Homo sapiens: one gene and its partner. The protein of the gene in region 1 purifies or fractionates together with the protein of each later gene. This does not show direct contact. Each region holds a gene or a part of one and is shown in the gene's direction. Other genes may lie near its edges.

Region 1 (10,685 bases):
TTCAGAAGAGTGATTCAGACCCCAAACACCCTGAATCCATCAGTTGCCTGAGCATTAAAGTGAGGATTCTGCAATCAATTAGTTATGTCTGCCACGAGAACAGCATGGCACAACCAATACATAGCCTGTGTGCCGGGCCTGAGCAGGTGCTGCTCTAAAATTGAAACTGAAGTGGTGTTTGAGGAAAAATTATGAAAGCAACTGGACAAAGCCATTGAACTTTCTTATCTCAAGGGCCTGGAGTAGCTTGTGACATGTCCTGAGATAAGAACCCACACTATCCCCACCCATTGCCCGGGTCACCCGATGGCCTCAGACACCTGTGAAAGCTAAACCCAGACCTGTGAACCACACCCTCTAGCTTTATGGTGCCGCTCCCAGCCTCCAGCCTCTCCCTTGGGCCCCATGTAGCTGCCGGCTCACTGTCTATAGTGCACTTCAGTTAAGCCATCGTCTGAGTAAGTCTTGGAAGGGACCAAAGTTGGGACACGAATCTTGTCCGGAAGCAAGGTCCAGGGGCTTCTGACCCAGGGAGGTGGGCATGACTCATGCTGAGCAGCCGAAGCTCCCTGACTTGCCGTGTCTGCTCCGGCCTCTGCATCCACCTGTTGCCTCTGCCTGGGCTGCTTCCTCTTGCCTGCGCAGCCTGGAAAGCTTCTGCTAGCTCTGCAGCACTGACAGCAAAGCCCCCCGCCCTCCCTGGCCCAGCTCCTCCGAGCTCCGGCATCGTCTCGGACAGCCCCATGCTTTGCACTGAGAAAGCCCCATGCTTTGCATTGAGATGTTTACTGTGTTGTAAACCACCTGTATGCAAAGAATCTCTCTCCTTTGCTCCATTCCTGGGGCCCATCACAGAACGACTGAGTTTCACCTTTGTGCCCATCCCCTGCCAGCCATTGTCTCTGAGTCTCTCTCCCAGAATGCATGGAAACAGGGATTTGGTTCCTTTTTGTTTCTGACAGTGCTGGCACAGGGCCAGGTGTCCAGTTCACCCTCAGTCCCGACTCACAGAAGCAAGACCCTCTTGGTTTCTAAAATGCACCTTTTACAATTGTTGAAGGAATGCCTTCTTCAACCCCTCTGCAAGGCTCTGGAGGACCTTGGTAGGTGGCTCTACCAGTGTGAATGGACAGGGTCCCTCTCTGCCCCAGGAGCAGCAGGGGCCTCCAGCCAGCCTTCTGTGTTGCTCCTTGCGGGAGAAATTCCTACTTGGGGTGCCAGCCAGCAAGGCAGAGAGGCAGGTACCTATTTCAGTGCTATAGGGCTTGGCCTGGACACCCTCTGTCATGTGTGTGATAATCATAACACAATGTCGAGATCAGCATCTGATCACCACCCAGGGCTTCTTAAACACGTACTCTGTGCCAGGCACTGAGCTACGCACTTTTTAATGAATCACTTAGTTCACTCTCTCACTCACAACTTGCTGGCATCCATCTTGCTTTACTGTTGGGGAACGGGAGGCCCAGAGAGGTGGTGCAAGGCAGTGATTTGAACCAAGGCCTCCCTCTTGCTCTCCACAGCTCATGCTCTCACTGTGGCACCTGCTAATTCTGCAGCACCCAAGCAGGTCTGGGTGGAGAGGCAACCGGCTCCCCTGCCCCCATCCCAGGAGGAACCCAAGCCTCAGGAACCTCCTGAGGAAAGGCCCCACTGGCCATGACCTTCAAAGATCCCCCGGAGACCACCTGCAGGCATACCCGTATTAGTTATCTATCGGCATAACAAATCGCCACCAACTCAATAGCTTACCACAACCCCAGTTGCAAGTTCAAAGTGCTGCAGGTCAGACATCCAGGCACTGCTTTGTGGGTCTTCTGCTCGTGGTCTCACGTGGTGAAAATCAGGGTGTCAGGCAGACTGGGCTCCTTCTGGGGGATCTGGGGAGGAGTCTGCATCCACGCTTATCCGGGTTGTTGGCCGAATGCAGTTGCTTGCAGGTGCAGCTGTAGGATTGACGTCCCTGTTTCCTGCTGACTGTTGGCTGGGGCCACTCTCAGCTCCCTTGGCTGCCCACATTCCTTGCCATGTGGTCCCCTTCATTTTCCAAATCAGCAGTGGTTCTCATCGTCCAATTCCCGACTTCCACTTTGAGGACCAGATGGAGAAAACACCCTACTTGTAAAAGGCTCATGTGATGAGGTCAGGCCCATTAGGTTAGTGTCCCTTTCTCAAAATGAACAAGTCAACAGTGCCATCAAACACAATCCTATCATAGAGTGTTCATCATATTCACAGGGGCAGGGACTATGTAGGGCATGTATACCAGAGGTGTGGGTCTGGGGACCATCATAGAATTCTGCCTCCCACAATTTTAAAAATTAATTCAGCATCAGTTCTTACTTTTCCCAAGAAGATCGCACCATATTGGGCTGGGGTGGGGCATGGAGAGGGCCACTGGCTTCACATAGCCTTGGTTCAGAATCCTGGCTCTGATCTCCAACGGCTTATGGCCTTGAAGAGGCAGCATGACTGTTCTGGGCCTCAGTTTACTCATCTGTAAAATGGAGTGAGGGCCACTGGCAGGGCAGCTGGAAGGTTAAATGGGATCATGCAGGTAGAAATTTTGGTAGAACCTGACCCTTGGGGCCTGGGCAATAGATGATGCAGCTGTGCATGGTTTTTTAGAACAACCCAGGCTTCTGTTTTGTTTGAAGTAGGGTGGGACCAATGAAAAGCATGTTTTTAGGCTCAAACACATCTGAGTCCACATCAGGAATCTTTCAGAGTCCAACTGTGGCCAGCGAGGCCCTGAGTACTGGACAGGAGACATGCCTTGTGCTGACCAGTGCCCACATGCTGGTGGCTGCAACCTGGGCTGGCTGCTCACCAGTTGCTCACAGGCAGAAGGGTCAGGGCCAAGCCTGATCCCTCAGAGCAGGAGAGTTGGGCATGGAGTTGTGGCAGGTGGAACATCATATGCCCACGCCATTGGAGCTGTGGTCCCTCCTTGGCAGTGCTCTGAGGGAAACTGGCATCCCTGTGCCCCTCCCTTTAGAGTCTTTGGCTTCCTCATTGTGTCTTACTGCGAAAGAGCAGTCAGACTGATATGGATGATGGGAGGAGCTGCCCTTTGGCTCAGAGGAGGAGTGTCAGAGAAGGGGTCACAAAGACAGCTCTGTAGGCTGAGCCAAAAGCAGTATAGGGTAATGTTAGGAGCAGGTCTTGGTGCAACTGCCTGGGTGCCCCTAGGTTCCACTGCTAACTTGCTATGTGACTGAGCCACTGTACACTTTAGTTTCCTCCTCTGTAAAATGGGGATAACAGTAGTCCTAGCCATAAAGTTGTCATGAGGATTAAATGAAATAGTGTGGGAAAACTACTGACATGTGGTGCATGTTCAGTACAAGTTATCCTCACCATTATCATCATCACCACCATCATCATCATCATCACCAGCATCATCATCATTACCGTCATCACCATTACCATCATCACCATCATCATCATTACCATCATCACCATCATCACCATCACCATCACCATCATTATCACCACCATCATCACCATCACCATCATCATCACCACCATCATCACCATCATCACCAACATTATCATCAGACCACCATCATCACCATCATTACCACCACCATCATCATCATTATCATCTTCACCATCATGATCACCATCATCATAACCACCATCATCACCATCATCACCACCACCATCATCACCATTATCATCCTCACCATGTTCACCATCATCATCATCACTATCACCACCACCACCATCATCACCATTATCATCCTCACCATCATCACCACCATCATCACCACTTTCATCACCATCACCGTCATCACCATCATTATCACCACCATCATCACCATCACCGTCATCACCATCATCACCACCATCATCATCACCATTATCATCCTTACCATCATCACCATCACCATCACCACCATCATCACCATTATCATCACCATCATCAACGCCATCATTATCACCATCATCACTATCATCACCATCACCATCACCATCACCAACTCATCATGATTTAACAGGTGGGCTGGCAATCTGAATGTTGAAGACAGAGGGAGAAAATCAACCTGGGGCAGTCAGATTTCTACAGTCCTCCCCAGCAGGACCCAGGTGGGCTACTGGGAGTCCCAGAAGCAGATATCAGCCCAAAAGATGAGCTTTGATAATTAGAGTGAGGCTATGGTGAGACTGAGTGACACTGCGGGGTGCCAAAATAATCTAGGGTTGTTGGAATGCTGACAGCAGACAAAAGTAAGATAAGGTATCTCCTGACACCACCTCCTTCCATCTGCTCTCAGACGGGGCTCTTTGGAGAGGATCTGCCAGGAAGAACTGAGGTCTTATGCCACCTCCACCTCTACGTAACCTCAAACAGGCGTCATCTTGTCTCCTGGCCTCAGTTTCCTCATCTGTAAAACGGGGACACATCAGGATCTGCCCTCAGCAAGTTGCTGAGTGCCTGCCCTGAGCAGCCGGTAGGTGGCGCTGATGGGCTGGTGGTTGGGTTGGGGGAGGCTCGCATAGGGTCTCTGGAGGTCCCAGTAGGGCACTGGGGAGACCTCCCCTGATTCCCTGGAGGCAGAGCAGAGCTCTTGTCTTTGCAGGAGCTGCAGATTCTGCCTTGGGTATCTTAGAAGCTTTGTACAGGCATCTCCAGCTCAGTGGGAACCAAATGCCATCCTATCTCCCCACCTCACTGGTGTCACCATCTTCCTGGGAGCTGTCTGGATAACCCTCTCCCTGGCCCTCACCTTTAATTTGTCCCTGAGTCCCATCAGGGTCACCCTCCATCCCACTGCCATCTTCCTGGGAGCTGTCTGGATAACCCTCTCCCTGGCCCTCACCTTTAATTTGTCCCTGAGTCCTATCAATCAGGGTCACCCTCCATCCCACCACCATCTCCCACCTGAGTGAGAATGGGAACCTCCTCTCCCACTCCCTCCAATTCCCCTCCACTACAGCTGGGGGAGGCTTCTAAAATGCCAAATATAGCCCAGTTTCTGCAACTTGCAGGGTCCCCAGCCCTCGGGAGAAAGTCCAAACCCCTGACAAAGCCTGTGAAGCCCCCTGAGGCCCTGTGGGTCTGGGGCTAGCTCTGGGCTGCAGCCCTGTCTCTGGTCATAGTCCAGCATCCACCACGGTCCAGGTGCACTGAGCTGCCGGCCCTCTCTCCCCTCCGCTGGCTCCTTCCTCCTGACTGCCCGTCTTTCCCTGGCCTCTCTATGCTTCCCGCTGGCATTGACGACAGTGTCCTGGAGAGCTGGGCAGGGAGGGCTGCCTTGGGTTCCTACTGTGTGCTCCACCTAGTGCTGGTCTTGGCCCTTAGCAAGTGCTCAGTACACCCGTGTGGAATTGGGCGGTGAGGGTAAAGGGAGGAGGAGGGAAGGGCCAAGAGCTCCCTGTGCTCAATGAAGAGAGGGACTTGAGCAAGTACTCATTTTTAGTACTTCCCAAGATGTGTACAAGAGGCCTGGGGCCAGCAGAACTCCTTGCCCCTGCCCATCCCCCTCCAGTCTATGGGGTCCACCCCCAGCTGCCCAGCTGTGAGGCCTCCATGGCTCAGCTCCTCATCTATTAAGTGAGGACAGCAGTCGTCCCCCTCACAGCGAGGCCACGTGGGTTACATAACTTTTTCTTAGGGTGCCTGGCCTGCAAGAAACCCCTAAGAATGTTCTATATTCCTAGGCCCACTGTTATTCTTAATATTACCCAGGAAAGGGTGGTGAAGCGAGTAAATAAATGAATAGGTGAATGAATAAATGAATGAATGAATGGCACCCTAGCCCCACTGTCTTCTGGGTGGCTTCAGGATCCTTGAGGAGGTTGGCCGTGTAGGTTCCCCTCAGGTAGGACCTAGGTGAGCTGGGGAGTCTTAACTCACCCAGGGCAGGCCTTAAGGTTGGGCACACCCATGTGTGGGCTCTGCCCTGGCCTTAACCGAGAGAGGGAAATGTTGACGGGGAAGAAAGCCCTGCCCACCAGGCAGCCCCACCCACCTGGGCTAGCCCCACTCACAAGCAGCCCCACCCACCTGGGTTAGTCCCACCCACCAGGCAGCTCCGCCTACCTTGGCTATCCCCCTCTGAGTTCTTGCCTTGATTCTCCTGTTACTGTCCCGCGAACCCACATCCCTACAAAGCAGGAAAGTATGCTTGGGAGAGGCCAAGTGAGTGGGGAATCAGCCCAAAGCCAGGCGTCCAGGGTCTCCCTCACCTGAAGCTGACTTTTTCCCCACCTTGGACAGAGGGCGGGAGATGCCATCCCCACTGAACCCAGTGCTTTCACCAGCCATATTAGCTCCCACTCACCCCCCGTCGTGGAAGCCTCGGCCGTCACACCTGCAGGGCCGGGGCGTGCATGGCCTCAGGGATGGCCTGTTCAGCTGCTGGGTGACTCGGGTCCAGGTGCCTCACCACCTGCTGAGCTCTGTGTGATTTCTGGACACTTCTGCTCGTTGCCTTTGGGCTCAGTGAAGAGTCTGGAGTTTATCTGGAGTGAGGTGGCCGGTTCTTGGTGGGATCTGAGCAGGTAAGAAGCAGGGTCTTTCTTATGTTTTAAGGAAAGCCCTGTGGCTGCTGGGTGGGGGACCAGCTGGAGGGGCAGGAGGGCAGCAGGTGACTCATTACAAGGCTGGGGCCATCATCCTGTGAGAGCTGGGCATGACCAGTGCAGGTCAGTGGGGTTGAGGGTACAGACCAGTGGGACCCACAGACGGCTCGGGAGTGACCAAGCCTCTGCTGAGCTGCCCAGGTCCCCTCTGGTGGACACCTCCTACCCGGAGCCCCCCAAGGTGGTGCCAAAGCTAGACCACCATACAGCCAGAGGCCTCCAGGCCCTACCCACGACAGCCCAGCTGGCTTCTGCCCAGCCACCGTCACACACAGAGGGCAGCCGTCCCCATGGTCCCTAGAGGCGGTTGAGGACCACTGTGCCTGGAGTCATCTGTGGCTATAAACCAGGAGGAGAAGGCTGCCCACCCCCTGCCCCAGAGATGGGGAGGCTGGGGCCACCCGGTGGATTTGGGCAGGTCCCAGCTTCCAGGATCATGAGGTGAAAACGTGAAGGGACCCTAGAGGCCATGGGGACCCAGGCACAGAGCGGCGGCCTCTCATCCTCCCCATGGTCAAGGAGGTCAGTGCCTTCCCGGGGTGGATTACGGATGGTAGTATCTTCCTTCTCCTCAGAGTCCATTCAGGAGCAGGAAAGTTCATCTCAGACCCTAAATCCAGCCACGTCATGCCACGCTTAACACCTCTAACAACTTCCCCTGGCACTTAGGACAGCGTCTGGCTCCTTCCCTCGGCTCATGGCCCTCAGAATCTGCGTCACATACACCCCAGCTCTCCCGATAGGTCTCTGCACTCGCTGTTGCCTCTGCCTGGAACAGTCTCCCTCCTGGTGTCATTGTCTCCGTGGTGTGTCCTTCCTGACCTTCCACCTCCACCAGGTGCCGACACTTCCCTGACCCCAGTAACCTCTTCTCTTGGGTGGGTGAATGCCACCTGCTGATGTCTGATTTATTCATCGGTTTTCTTGTCTGTAGTCTGTCCCCCTTGGGGACAGGGACTCGTTGCTCATGTTCACCCGGCAGGCTGGACACTTCGTGGAGGGCTCCAAAGCCGGCAGATCCCGGGGCCGCCTCTGTCTCTCCCAGGCCCTGCGTGTTGCGGTGAGAGGAGCATTTGTGTCTCTGTGGTTTGCTGCTGGAGCTGGTGACCGGGAGAGAAACAAGGGAGACAAGGGTGCCCAGACAGGTGCGGGGCTCAGCCAGGAGGCAGAAGACGTGGACGTGTCCCGGGCCAGGAGGGTCACAGATGCACCACAAGGCACTCTGTGTGGCACTGGGAACAGGAATTCTGGGAGTCAGTCTGCAAGGGTGGTGGGCGTTGCTCACCTGGGAGAAGCCTTTAGAGTGGGCGTTGAGCAGGCCATTAGCTCGTGCCCTGAGGAGGTGCATGGGCGGCATGGGCTCTCCATGGAAATTATGTGGGCGCGAATGGATGTGGCTCTGCGCTCACCTGGGCGAGGACTTCTGGCCGGTGCCGGGGCACTCTGCATGACCCTGGCAGAATCGAGCTGCCCTGACTATGAAAGGGGAAGAAGAGCATGCCTGACCCTCCACCGGCACCCCACCCCTCACTGCTCCACCTGGGGCCTGCCTCTGCGGGTGGCTGGGTCCTGGCTGACTGTTGTGACTGTTGAGGCCCTGGGGGGGTGGCGCATGGGAGTTAGGAGGACTGGCCAGGTGGGGCCCACTATGCACCCACCCCCAGTGTCAGGTGCTTCTCCTCTCCTCCTCCACCACCTCCTCCTCCTCCTCCTCATCATCATCCTCACTTGTTGAGGACGTCCTGTGTGCCAAGTGGTTTATATGCCCAGCCTCATTTAATCCTCAGAATGACTCCATGAGGTAGCTACTAAAACCCCCCACTTAACAGATGAGGAAACTGAGGCCTAGAGAAGCTCAACAAGTTGCCTAAGTTCCAAGTTTCCTCTCCCAACTCTCCTACCCTCTCCTCTTCCTTCTCCTTTCTCCCATTCTTCCCTGCCTCTTCCCTAACTAGACAATTTTTTATTGAGTGTCTCCCAGGTGCAGGCATGAGCCAGGTGCTGGGAAAATCATGATAACCCAGCTCCTTCTGGTCATTTTCTCAGCTGGTTAGAGGCTGGGAGGACACGCAAGTTCAGCTCCAGCCGACTGGGGCATTGGTGGTAGCCCCTGGAGACATTGTGCAATGGGGCTACGAGGCTGCATCTGGCTCCAGGGAAGCGTGTTGCAATCCATGAGTGATGTCTGCCATGCGTACAGGCATGGAGAGTGAGGCGCCTGTACTGTCTTTCTGTAGACCCTAGACTGGTGGGGCCTCTGAAATGCATCCAGACACTGTGCTGGGTGTGTTGCATGGCCCTCCCAACCAATTCAGTATTTTTCTCCCCATTTTCCAGGGAGAAATCTAAGGCGTCAGAATGTAAGGTTCTTATTGGAACCCAGGCTCCAGGGTCCCTGGTTTTCTGTGACATCATGCTGCAGGACCCTGTTTCTCTCTTTGCTTTGGCTGCTGGGGAGCTCAGAAGGGAGCTTTAGGCTTGCTCTCAGTCACCACATTAGCTCAGGGGTTTGGGCATTTTTGTCGCCGTCTCCTTTGGGCTCTGTCTCCTCCCTGCTGTGCTTCCTGAGGAGCAGGCCGGATGTAAGTTATCAACTATAAATAAAACCAAGACTTCCGTTCTGGCTCTCACTCTAGTTTCCTGGTGCATTTTTTTTTTTTAAAGTTCTTAATCAAGGGAGGGGATACTCCTAACTGAAGATGACATCAGCATCAGCTGGCCCCGGGGGGCAGGCCCCCAGCCCCCAGGCCCGTGTGGGCCCTGAATGCCCCCATTATGAGGGGTAACCTCATTACACAAGACACGCTGCACGGCGGAATTTCAAATGGGGTTTTGTGGTTTCTGCCCTTTGCAGCCGAGCACACACAGGCAGCTGCGGCCGCCCGGCTTCCTCTCCCGCCGCAGCCCTGGCGCCTGGCCAGCTGGTGACCACCCCTTCTACCATGAGTCAGTTTCATTCTTAACTCTCTGACTCAGGTCCCTTTAAAGGGACAGCAGAATCCATTCATTCCAAGCAAGGGAGGAGAGGTGAAGAACCTGCCTGGGAGAGGAGTCAGGGGTCAAGAGGAAGCTTAGGGGTCCCAGGCAGGCGGCTGAGTGAGCAGCCCTGCCTCACTCCCCTACCCCAGACACCAAGGATGGAGGGGCTTTCCTGCCTGTTCCAAGGGAGACGGACCTGTGACTTCCCCAAAGCAGACCATCTGCAAGGCGGGAAACCCCGGTGTTCAGCAAGCTTCCTTTCTGTCTGGGCACAAGCCCTGCCCAAGCTCTGGGCTCAGAAGGTAATGGGGGCTTTGCAAGCCACCCCCAATGCCCCACGTGCACCACTTCCTTCTCATCCTTGGCCCCCTCATTCCTTGTACTTCCGTCGCAACAACCTCTGGAGTTCCTAGAACATCCTGAGCTGCTTCCCCCGGCTGCCTCCCTGCCACCTGGCATGCACGTCACTCCGCTCTTTGTGGTGGTCCCATCTCCTCCTTCCGAGCCCAGCTGCATGCCACCTCCTCCCACGTACATACTGCCAGTCCGTCATAGCAACCTATTTATCTCCATAGTAACACAAGGAACAACCCCAAACTCTATTCAACTTGCTCCCCATGTTAACGGCCCCCAGTGTGGACTGTCAGCTCCATGAAGGCAGGGCCCTACTTATCTCGTTCACAGCACAAGGCCGGGCACACAGTAGGTGCTCACTCAACATTCCTGGGATCAATGGGAAATGACTGTCGGGGAACCCTCTGCAGCCGTCCTTGTCGAGGGCCCCAGATGGGGTGTGGGTGGCCCCTCCCCATCCAGATGGTGTTGGAGGGGCTGGGGGCCAGGCATGGCGAGCAGGCCGAGGCTGCAGGTGGACATCCCTGGGACTGGAGCTGCTGGGGGCCAGGCTGCAGTTCCAGCCCAGGTCAGGTCTCATGTGAGGCCTCCGTGAAACAAGAATTTCTCTCTCCGTTTCCTTCTCCTGTCTGACTCACACTTTCGTTTTGAAGTTCCCCCTTTCTGCCAGTGCTTTGCCTGAGGTTACGGAGTGGTCAAGCGAGGCCAGCAGGGCGTGGAGACCAGGAGGAAGCTGGGCTGCAGTTTCATTCACAAAAACA
Region 2 (11,404 bases), on another chromosome or scaffold:
TAGTTCCTGCAGCTGTGTCCTTTCAATGACTGCTTTATGGTGGCCAAGAGAGTTGAGGTCGACTGCCAGGACTCAGAGATCTGGAGGAACACATGGACACATTATTCTTTTGCTCTGAAGCTATCCAATTCCTGTTCCGGTCAGAAGGGGAGATAGTGGGAGGATATCTCTGAAACTGCCCAGCGCTTACTGCTGATATTCCTCAGGTCTGACATTATTGCAAGAGAACAAACTTAGATCTACCCTCTGTGTGTTCTTCAGTGGAAGGTGAATTACTAACGAAAGTGTAATAATACAAAACACAATTGAGTGTAGCCTTGGCTTTATTTGTAAGACCTACTCTGGAGATATTATTTTCTTTACTCCAAGACTACACATTGGATCCAGTCTGCTTCAAACAAGAGACCGGGAAAGACGGGTTACTATGCTAATTGAATACTAATGAGGCCTTTGCTTAAGTTGGGTTTTGTTGCAATTATTTGCCACTACATTTCTTTTGTATTTATGTAGAGGGAAAAATAAACTACTTCAAAGTTAGCAAGAGTCTTACTTAGCCTGAGCACTTGCAGAAAAAATGTCTTGCTACTCTTTCTTTTGTACTTGTAACATTTGTAAAGAGTTTTGTTCGGCACTATGGAAAAGCAAAATATCATCATCATTATTACTGGCCTTTGTCCACAGTGGATTTCATCCAGATTCTAACCAGTGACTCTGTGACTAACAATCTGAGTCACTAAGTTTCAGATGTTTATGGATTTCAACACAATTCCCAGACTGAAAGGTTTTTTTTTTTAATTTACTTTCATGTTTCAAGACTCAGAAAGAATTAACTGCCTTTCTGTATTTCCAGTCTAGTGCAGAAAGAATTAAATGCCTTTCTGTATTTCCAATCTAGTGTCACTGAGTGACGGGCTAGGAACAATTCAGTGGATAGACTGAACTGTTCCTTCAATTACAGATTTGTATTGACAAAAGTCAATTACCAAAATGTCAAAAAAAAATTAGTATATACTTCCAGGACAAAAGCCTCCAGGCTGGCAGAGAATTCAGTGAATTATAAATATTTGTGTTTTCACCATGGTAGTGGCACAGGATGATTACAGAATTTAAAATGCAGAGAATCACGGTGATGGGAAAACTGAATATCCACATGTGGAAGAATGAAACTAGACCCCTCTTTCTCACCATATACAAAAATCAACTCAAGGCCGGATGCAGTGGCTCATGCCTGTAATCCCAGAACTTTGGCAGGCCGAGGCAGGCAGATCACTTGAGGTCAGGAGTTTGAGACCAGCCTGGCCAATGTGGTGAAACCCCATCTCTACTAAAAGCACAAAAATTAGCCGGGCGTGGTGGTGGGCGCCTGTAATCCCAGCTACTTGGGAGGCTGAGGCAGGACAATCACCTGAATCTGAGATGCGGAGGTTGCAGTGAGCCGAGATAAAACCACTGCACTCCAGCCTGGGCAACAGAGCAAGACTCCGTCTCAAAACAAACAAACAAACAAACAAACAAACAAACATCAACTCAAAATAAAGACTGCCATGTAAAACCTGAGATGATGAAACTGCTAGAAAAAAAACATAGTGGAAACACTTCATGACATTGGTCCAGGCAAGGATTTTTTGGATAAGACCTCAACAAAAAGAATGAAATCCTGTCATTTGCAACAACATGGATGAACCTGGAGGACATTATGTTAAGCAAGAAAAGCCAGAAACAAAAGGCAAATACGACATGATCTCACTTATATGTGGAATTTTAAAAAGTTGATCACATAGAAGTAGAGACTAGAATACTGGTTAGCAGAGTCAGGTGAAAGGTGGGGAGGAGTGGCAGGAGTAGGAGAAGTTGGTTAGTAGGTACTAGGTTATAGTTAGATGAGAGGAATAAGTTCTGGTACACTAACGCAGTAGTCTCAACCTTTTTGGCACCAAAGACCTGTTTTGTGCAAGACAATTTTTCCACGGATTTTGAGGGGGGATGGTTTCAGGATGAAACTGTTCCATCTCAGATCATCCGGCATTAGTTAGGTTCACAGAAGGAGCATGCAACCTAGATCCCTCCCATGTGCGGTTCACCATAGGGTTTGTGCTCCTGTGAGAATCGAATGCGGCTGCTGATCTGACAGGGGCAGAGCTCAGGTGGGAATGCTCGCTGACACTCACCTCCTACAGTGCAGCTCAGTTCCTAACAGGCCACAGGCTGGTACCAGTTTGCAGCCCGGTAGTTGGGGACACCTGCTGTATGGCACAGCAGAATGATATATTTAACAATAATGTGTTGTATATTTCAAATCAGCTAGAAGAGACAATTTTGAATGTTCTCACCACAAAGAAAAGAAAAATGCTTGAGATGATGAGTATGCTAATTACCCTGAGTTGATCATTATGCAATGTATACATGTAGTGGAATATCACACTGTACCCCATAGATAATATGTATAACTATTATGTGTCAGTTAAAAATAAAACTAAAAAAAAAAGTAAGTAAACACAATATAAACACCAAAAAAAAAAAATAAATAAAATGCAGAGAAACTACTGCTAAAATGTAATAAAGAGAATGATAGAAAAATACAAGTATATTGACTGGTTATTAACTTTGCAAAGATGCACATCTTTATTCTTATAGCTCTTTCAAAGGTATATTAGAAAATGGACAGTCTGACCAGGGCCTACTTGAGGGTGGAGGGCGGGAGGAGGGTAAGGATCAAAAAACTATGTATCAGGTGCTATGGTTATTACCTGGGTGATGAAATAATCTGTACACCTAACCCCTGCGACATGCAATTTTCCCAAACAAACCTGCGTGTGTACCCCCAAACCTCAAATAAAAGTTGGAAAGGAAAAAAAAAGAAAAGGAAATGGACAGTCTGAGCTAAAATATCCCTTTTTATGAAAAATCTCATTATTTTAATAATTTTATCATTTTTCTGTATTCATTCTCATACCAGCTCTAGACTATCCCTGGACTATAACTATCCCTGATTGGTCACCTTACGTCAATCTTTTATTATTATTATTATTATTTGTTTGTAGGGACAGGGTCTTGCTCTGTCACCCAGGCTGGAGTGCAGTGGTGCAATTATGACTCAATGCAGCCTCAAACTTCTGGCCTCAAGCAATCTTTCCAGCTCAGCCTCCCCAGTAGCTAGGTCTACAGGTGCCACGCTACCACACCTGGCTAAGTTTTTAATTTTTTATAGTGATGTGGTCTTACAATGTTACCCAGGTTTGGTCTTGAATTCCTGGCCTCAAGTGAGCCTCCTGCTTTGGCCTCCCGAAGTGCTGGTATTACAGGTGTGAGCCATGGTGCCTAGCCCCATCAACCTTAAAAGACAATTCCTTGTCATTTTCACATGGAATAATTTTACAAACATTTGGTCATACATTTTTACAGCATGTCAGGTTAATAATATCTTACAGTTTTATAGCATTTTGCAAAGAATTCTCTTGCATGTTATCTCACATTCATCTCATCATCATATGCAGTAGAGAATAAATGGGTGGCTCCATTTTATGGATGAGAAAATTGATGTATATTACACTGATATAATTGGCTTAGACTCATTGGCTAAAGTAACATGGATTGTTACAGAAAAATAGAGGTCCTAGTCCAAAGCTATTCCACTAGACATGTGATATGGTTTGGCTCTGTGTCCCCACCCAAATCTCATGTTGAATTGTAATTCCCAGTGTTGGGGGAGGGATCTGGTGGGAGGTGATTGGCTCATGGGGGTGGATTTCTCCCATATTGTTCTCGTTATAGTGAGTGAGTTCTCACAAGATCTGATGGTTTAAAAGTATGTGGCACTACACCCTTGCTCTCTCTCTCTCCTGCTCTGCCATGGTAAGACGTGCTTGCTTCCCCTTTGCCTTCTGCCATGATTGTAAATTTCCTGAGGCCTCCCAGCCTTGCTTTCTGTACAGCCTGCAGAACTGTGAGTCAATTAAACCTCTTTTCTTCATAAATTATCCAGGTCTAAGGTAGTTCTTTATACCAATATGAGAACAGACTAATACAACATGTAACAGAAATTTGAGGTTTAAAAAGAATTTTTGCCTCTAAATCCTCATAATGCAAGATTAAGAATAAAGCCTTGGACAGATGAGCTGTTATTTCTGGATACCGGTCTTTGCAAATACTATTTGGGTTATCAAGTATTATTTTGTATTATGTTAATGCTCTCCAAAGTATCGAAGTGTAATCAGACCGCACAAAGTATTATCAAAATATACAAAGATAATAAAATGAATTAGATTTTTAAAAACTATTTACTCATCATTCTGTGCCCTTTATAGGATGACCTATATAAGTCTATGTAGGATGTTCTTGAGCACACATTCATAAGATTCCTGTTGTCTTTCAAGCAAGTTACATTTTTCACTGTGAACTTGTTGGATTTTACGTTTAAACTAATAGCCTTTCTAAGGGAAGAAGATTTATCTACCATTTCCCTTACATCTTCCGCAGTGTCTAGGCTGGAACCAAAGTTGATGCTTTTTGACTTCTGTATGGCAACTACTCCTGTGACATATTTTGAAGTTCCTGGTACCCCCCAATCTGGCCCTGCACCCACACTGAGCCTCATGGCTAAGTTTTGATATCCAAGCAGTAAGATGGTCTAGTGGAATCCCCTAAAGCATGGGTCATGAGCCACCCACATCACACCCATCTGGTGTCTCTCAGCAGGTACAGGATTCTAGGTGCTTCCACAGATCTTCCCCACCCAGTGAAGCTGCATTAACCAGCTCCCCAGGAGAGTCTTGTGAACTCTAAAGTTTGATCATCATCCTAATGATAGCACTTTTCTGCTCCTGGAAATTTTAATGATGTTGCTTGTGAATATGGTTCCTGGGCCTGGTCTTTGAAAATGAAAATAAAAGATGGTGCTTGACTTTGGGGAAAAGAAGTGAGATGCAGACTACAAAAATGGCTCAAAACAACGCCCTCTCACAATTACTAGGAGAAAATGTTTACCCGTGTGCTGAGAAACAACACCCCCCATTTCTGTAAGGCAGTTGCCAAGCAGATGCCTGATTTCAGGGATCTCTGGAGCTGCACCCTCCAAGGCGCTGGCGCTTAGAAACGACATGAAGAGCCAGCCCTGCTGAGCAGGACCAGGGCGCCAAGTCTGAATGACTAATATTTTTCCAACCTAGAACGTCATTAACCGATTGATAACTATTTCCCCTTTAAACTAGGCAAAATCAGCATTCCTCTCCCCTCTGTGTGCCAGAATTCGAAGATGAACAAAAGACGCCTGCATCAGGAAAACTGTGTTAAGTTCTCTTGGATTCAGGGCTTCGACCCGAATTGGGCTGAGTGAATGAAGACGCTGGTGAGATGTCAGGGACCTGGGGAATGAAGACACACCCAGAAAAAGCAGGAACCTACAGGAGTGGACAAAGAACCGGAGCATAGGCATGTGAGAGGGGTTGAAATGAACAACAGACTCATACAAGAAGGATTTCTAATCAGAAAAGAGCGATTGCTTTAGTAAAGCTGCAACCTGGAACAATTACAATCTGACCAGATGTTCTTGCAAAACTGGTAAAGCAGAGAATGTGTAAAAATCTCTCCCCCTCCTCCCCTGAATGCAGTTGACGAAAGGCCGAAAGGCTGGATCCTCAAAGCCCAGATCTGATCACTGCAGATCCGGGCCACCCTAAAAGCAATCGGGTGTAATCTTTCCAGCTCCAGGCCCTGGGATGAGGGAGGTGGGGGAAGGTGGAGAAAGGTGGAGGAAGATGGAGGGAGGTGAGGGGAGGTGGAGGGAGGTGAGGGGAGGTGGAGGGAGATGAGCGGAGGTGGAGAGAGGTGGGTGGCGGCTCCAAGGTTTGAAAACACATCCAGGACACTTCCCATCCTCCAAGAGCACGCTGGCTCACAGGCTCTTTCACGCTTCTGCTTGGGACAATCGCGTGCATGAAATCTGGCAGGGAGGAGTCAAGGAGATTGTTAGCCCGAGGGCTGGGACGGTGGATCTGGGAATCAGGGGCCTGGGGGACACGTTCTCTTCCTGCCGCGGGCTTCCTGCTCCAGAGTCCCCGCGGGGCTTGGCGGCGGGGCCGGGGGCTGCACGCGACCATCCGGCAGGGGGCGGCGGCGACAGCGGCGGCCGCAAGGGACGCGTCCGGGGCCCGCGCTCAGGGGGAGCGGTAGCGGCTTGGCAGCTGCTCCCCGCGCCCCCGCGGCCTAGCCAGGGGAGGGGGCGCAGCGCCGGGGCCATGGATCCGCGTCAGGCCGCTGCTTCCCGCCGGCGGGCCCGGGGCGGGGCGGACCCGTCCCCGTCCCCGTCCCCGTCCCCGTCCCCGTCCCCATCCCCACGTCCCATCCCCCACGCAGCCTTCGCCCTCCCTGCTCCTTCCCGCGCCGTCTTCCCTTCCCGCGTTCCCCGGGAGAAACATGGCCGGGAGCAGCGAGGAGGCGCCAGACTACGGGCGAGGCGTCGTGGTAAATGCAAACTCCCTATTTTGGGGCTCGGCCCGCTCCCCTCCCTCCCTGGCACCCTGCTTGTAGATTAAATGCTTGCCGTGCGTCGGGGGAGAGAGAGGGCCACCGCTTTGTTCTCCCTCCCGGCGGGGATCGCTTCCATCCTCGGACCCGGGCCTCCTCTCCCCGCCCCCAATCTGACGAAACTCTGAGTCCCGTCCCTTCACCCCGAGTTCCCAGCGTCCCCCCGTGTCCTCCGGCCGGTAGCTCGCTCCTGCAGCGTCCCGCCGGCGCCCAGCCGTCCCCATCCCCGCGAGCCACGGGGAGTCGCTTCTGCGAGCCCGGCAGGGCCCCAGAGACCCCCGCGTGCTGCTCTGGAGGCCTCCTTCTTCCTGGGTCTCCTCTTGACTCCTCCAGGGCGGGCTTCAAGTTTTGTTTTTAAAAAGCACACTGAGGGGTTTTGAAGGCAGCTAGGAAATAAAGTAGCTCAAGTGGACAGAGCTTGAGATTTGAAGCCTTTGGTACCCAGGTTGGGGGCTCTCTGGCAGTGGAGGCCTCTGCAGGAGCTCTAGGACACGCTGGCGGCTCCTGAGTGACCTATGGCTTGTCTGTAAAAGGGAGCAACAGCAAGCTGGGCTCTGGAGCCAATTGGGAGGATGCATGTAAAATATCTAGCAGTGTGTCCGGATGGGAGGGTGTGGGGTGCTGGTTTCCCAGAACTGAGCCTCATTAACCCTGAGAATCCTGACGGTGTCAGCCAGAGGGTACCCATCTCTCAGTGTGCTAGGATCCAACCCGTTCTTGACCTTGTGGCCACGTCCTCCCTGCTCCCTGAGAAGTGGTTTTCCTAGAAGGTGGTGGTTATAACTTGTGTCAGGTTCAGTGTGAAACTCAATGGTGGTGAGGATGGTGGGTGGGGCTAACTTGCCATCTCTTTCCAGGGATCAGCTTGTCATTCACAGATAATCTGTTTATGAATATGAATGGCCTGAACTAAAGTAAGTGGGCTGGGGAGGGAAACGTGTCACATTCAGACAGAAGGGTCAGGTTGAAATGTGGGGCTCAGTGCTTAATTTAACAGCAGGACCTTTCCTTCTGAAAGGATGAGGAGTTGATTTATTCATTCCACACGTTTATTGTCCTGCTGGGTTGTAGGAGGTGCTGTAGGCTCTGGGGTGCAAAAGACAAAGGCCTTGTCTTCATGAGCTTGCGTTCTAGAGAAGACATAGGCAAGCAGTGTGTAAACAAATAGAGAAAATTTCAAATAGAGATATGTGCAATAGGAGGAGGGTAACAGGATAGAGGGTAATTGGAGGAGAAGGGGGGAGTGATGCTTTTGCTCAGGTGGTCAGGGCAGCCTCTCTGCGGTGACCTTTGAGCCAAGATCTGAAGGGTACACAGGAGTAGCCATGTGGACTGCAGGCAGAGACCCGCATACCAAATGCAAAAGAATCATTGTATCCGATTTATGCTTTTACAAAAACCATTCCAGTTGCCCCAGGAGGAGGGGCAAGCCTAGCGGTGTGATGGATGGGAGGGGGACTAAAACGCAAAAAGGGCAATCATTAAGTTCATTCTGGACAAATTGAGTTTGTAGTGCCTGTAAGGCCCACAGGTTGGCCTGCACTGTAGGCAATTTGAAATTCACATTTGGAATTCTGGAGAGTGATTGGAGAGATTTGGAAGTCATCAGCAAAAAGAATAATATGTAATGTTCGGGAGTGCTCAGTGAATATGGAAAAAACAATTAAAGCAACTGTTAAGGATGGAAGCCTGGAAAGTCCCAAATATAAGAGGCTGCCTGTGGGGGAGAAGCTGGTTGAAGGAACCGAGAAAGAACTTTGAAGGGTGGGAGGGCAGGCAGCATGGTGGGTGCCTTGGGAATAGAGCATTGTTGAGCAGGAGGGGCGGGGTCAAGAGGTCATCAGAAGTGTCAGATGTTACAGGGACAGCAAGTCGGATACCAAGATGGAAAACAGCCACTGTATTTAACAATTACAAAGCCATTAGTAGGGAGAATCTTTTAAACAACCACTGCATTGGTAGAATGGTTAAAATATAGTACAAGTTGAGCATCCCTAATCCAAAAATCCAAAATCCGAAATGCTCCAAAATCTGAAACTTTCTGAGCACCAACATGATGCTGAAAGGAGATGCTTACTGGAGCATTTTGGATTTCGGATTTTCAGATTAGGGATGCTCAACCAGGAAGTATAATGCAAATATTCCAAAATCCAAAGGAAAAAAAATCTGAAATTGGAAACGCATCTGATCCCAAGCATTTTGGATAAGGGGTACTCAACTTGTACTACCGTAACATACTACATACTTTTAGAAAAGAATAAGGTGAATCTAGATGCACGGATAGAGTAGGTAAATTGTTGAAGTCTAAAAAACAAGTGAGAGAACACTGTAAATAGCCCAGTCTATTGGTGTCAACAGAGGTCCTCTTGGAAGCAAGGTAATTTTTTGAAAGATGCAAAGAGGTAGTGAGAGGGGTATCAAGAGAGTAGAGGGCCAGGTGAGGTGGCTCATACCTGTAATCCCACCACTTTGGGAGGCCGAGGTGGGTGGATCTCCTGAGGTCAGGAGTTCAATAGAATCCTGACCAACATCGTAAAACCTTGCTGCTACTAAAAATACAAAATTAGCTTGGCATGGTAGTGCATGCCTGTAATCACAGCTACTTGGGAGGCAGAAGCAGGAGAATTGCTTGAATCCGGAAGGTGGAGGTTGCAGCAATCCAAGATTGCACCATTGCACTCCAGGCAACAAGAGTGAAACTCCTTCTTAAAAAAAAAAAAAAAAATAAATAAATAAATAAATAAATAAACAAAAAAAATGAGTATAAACTGGACCAGCTGCCAAGGGGCTTGGTGCTTGCATGAGAGCCCACAAAGGTGGGAAATAATCCACATATAATGGAGATAGTCCCTACATTTACATCCTTTTCTCCAGTAGAACTTGGAATAATTAGATTAACCTCAAGTTGGATATAAGCAGGCAACTTCAGAGCGAATCGAAGCTGCTGGTAGAAGGCAGCTCATGGCATGTAAGGCAGGAGGGAAGGGAGAGCTGGAGAGGATGAGTTTACTGGGAGAATAGAAAGCTCTCAAGGATGGGATACAAAAAATCAAATTAGTACCAGTTTTAAAAAGGGGCAGGTGGCTGGGAGTGGTGGCTCACACCTGTAATCCCAGCACTTTGGGAGGCTGAGAGAGCAAATCACTTGAGCCCAGGAGTTCGAGACCAGCCTGGGCAGCCAACCCTCTCTCTACAAAAAATACAAAACTTAGCCAGGCATGGTGGTGCATGCCTGTAGTCCCAGCTACCGGGGAGGCTGAGGTGGGAGAAGCACCTGAGCCCAGGAAGTCAAGGCTGCAGTGAGCCATGATCGTGCCACTGCATTCCAGCCTGGGTGTCAGAGTGAGACCCCATCTGAAAAAAGGGGCAGAGGGCAGGTAATAATAGCAAGCATTTCTTGAGCACAAATCTGTAAGGGAGGTCTAGTGTGCTCCCCATTTTACAGAAGAGGAAACTGAGGCACTGAGAGATTAAGTAAATCACCCAGGTCGCATAAGTAGCAAATGGCAGAAGCGGGATTTGAACCAGCTTTCAATCACTATACTACATAGCAAGCTGTGATTCCAGGATGGAATTTCAGGGTTGGGGCCATCTGTAGGACTGGTCTGGCTATGTGAATGTATTGCTAAATGGGGAATAAAGATGTGATTTGAGTTAAGAATGTAGTTTGAGCTAAGGCTGGTGAAGGAGCTACAAGATGAAGTCGTTGGAAAGATCGTTGAGGTAGGCATTGGAGTAAATCAGCCAAGGAATTGTCCAGGAATGAGGTAGAGAAGAAAATTCCGAGTTGGTAGAAATCTGTTGATAAAGATGGCAAGGGATGTAGAGTCAGATGATATAAATATAAAACGAGAAGTAAAGTTTGTGCAAGAGAAGGGAATATTAAGAGATTTAAGATGGCTCTTGCCTATAAATTGGCTTTTGGTTGAACTGGGGAGGTAGGACATTTATACCATTAACAATAAATGGTAGCAAATGCTAATTGCCACATAAGAGAGGTAGATCCTAAGGTCAGAAATTTTGCTCAGAGTTGGCTTGTCACTTGATCTGGAGCTAATACAGTCACCAGATTCCTGGTTGATACCTCTTTGTTACTTCTCAGGGAGAGATAAAGATCTTCTCTATCCACCTGGCTTTTGGGGATCGGGTTATTAGACATGTTTTTGTTTGTTTGTTTTTGTCTGGTTTGGTTTTGCCAAATGATTATCAACTGAGCTATTATTAGTACTTACCTAAGTGAGTTTGGTAGGAATCAGGAGAAGAGAGAAATCAGAAATGATTGTTGTGTTTCTGTTATGGCTGGCTTCCTGTCACCCCCCATGAAAATACGGCAGTATCAGAGATAAGTAATCAGGTAATATCAGAGATAAGTAATCCATCGAAAGCACAGCTCTACTAGGTGGTAATGAGTTTTCCTTCTGTGGGGCAAACCCACCACAGAAGAGGAAGGCATGTGGATAGGAGGTGGTTGGCCTGTCGAGCTTCCTTCATTCCTCTGTGAGCAGAACCTGGGAATCTTTTAGCAAACCACTTGTCCCCACTTTTCAAGATGTATGGTTGTGAGGTGGGGCCCTTCCCAGGGTACCTCCTTCCCTGGCTCTAGGGCTAGGACAGGAATCCCAGAATTCCTGTCTGGGATTCTTTGAATTAGAGTGAAGGGATGAGACCCCCTTTCTCTTGCTGGTGGAGGACAGATGAGAGCTATGGCCTGAAGGAGAGAACAGGGCCAATCTGTGGAGCTCAGCAGGGGAGAGGAGCAGAGATTAGCTTCTTGTATGTGTTTTCTCCCTTAGGGAGAAAAATGATGCAAAAAATAGTCTAAGCACAAAAAAAATTATTTTTAATGACTTACAAAGTTTTCAGTGCATCTTCAGTGCGAAAA

Evidence for each region.
Region 2: the proteins of MYEOV (region 1) and PRTFDC1 purify together in Homo sapiens (affinity purification with mass spectrometry; 2 studies listed by BioGRID and IntAct, with this or other methods). This does not show direct contact.

Annotation. Positions count from the first base shown.
Region 1 is NC_000011.10:69,288,067-69,298,751, forward strand, and holds MYEOV (myeloma-overexpressed gene protein), read left to right. Parts: upstream 1-6,088; 5' UTR 6,089-6,510; exon of another isoform or gene 6,511-7,166; 5' UTR 7,167-7,288; coding exon 7,289-7,429; exon of another isoform or gene 7,430-7,525; coding exon 7,526-8,326; 3' UTR 8,327-9,221; downstream 9,222-10,685.
Region 2 is NC_000010.11:24,947,583-24,958,986, reverse strand, and holds the start of PRTFDC1 (phosphoribosyltransferase domain-containing protein 1), read left to right. Parts: upstream 1-6,380; 5' UTR 6,381-6,411; coding exon 6,412-6,459; intron 6,460-6,538; exon of another isoform or gene 6,539-6,623; intron 6,624-11,404. UniProt on the Homo sapiens protein: Has low, barely detectable phosphoribosyltransferase activity (in vitro). Binds GMP, IMP and alpha-D-5-phosphoribosyl 1-pyrophosphate (PRPP). Is not expected to contribute to purine metabolism or GMP salvage.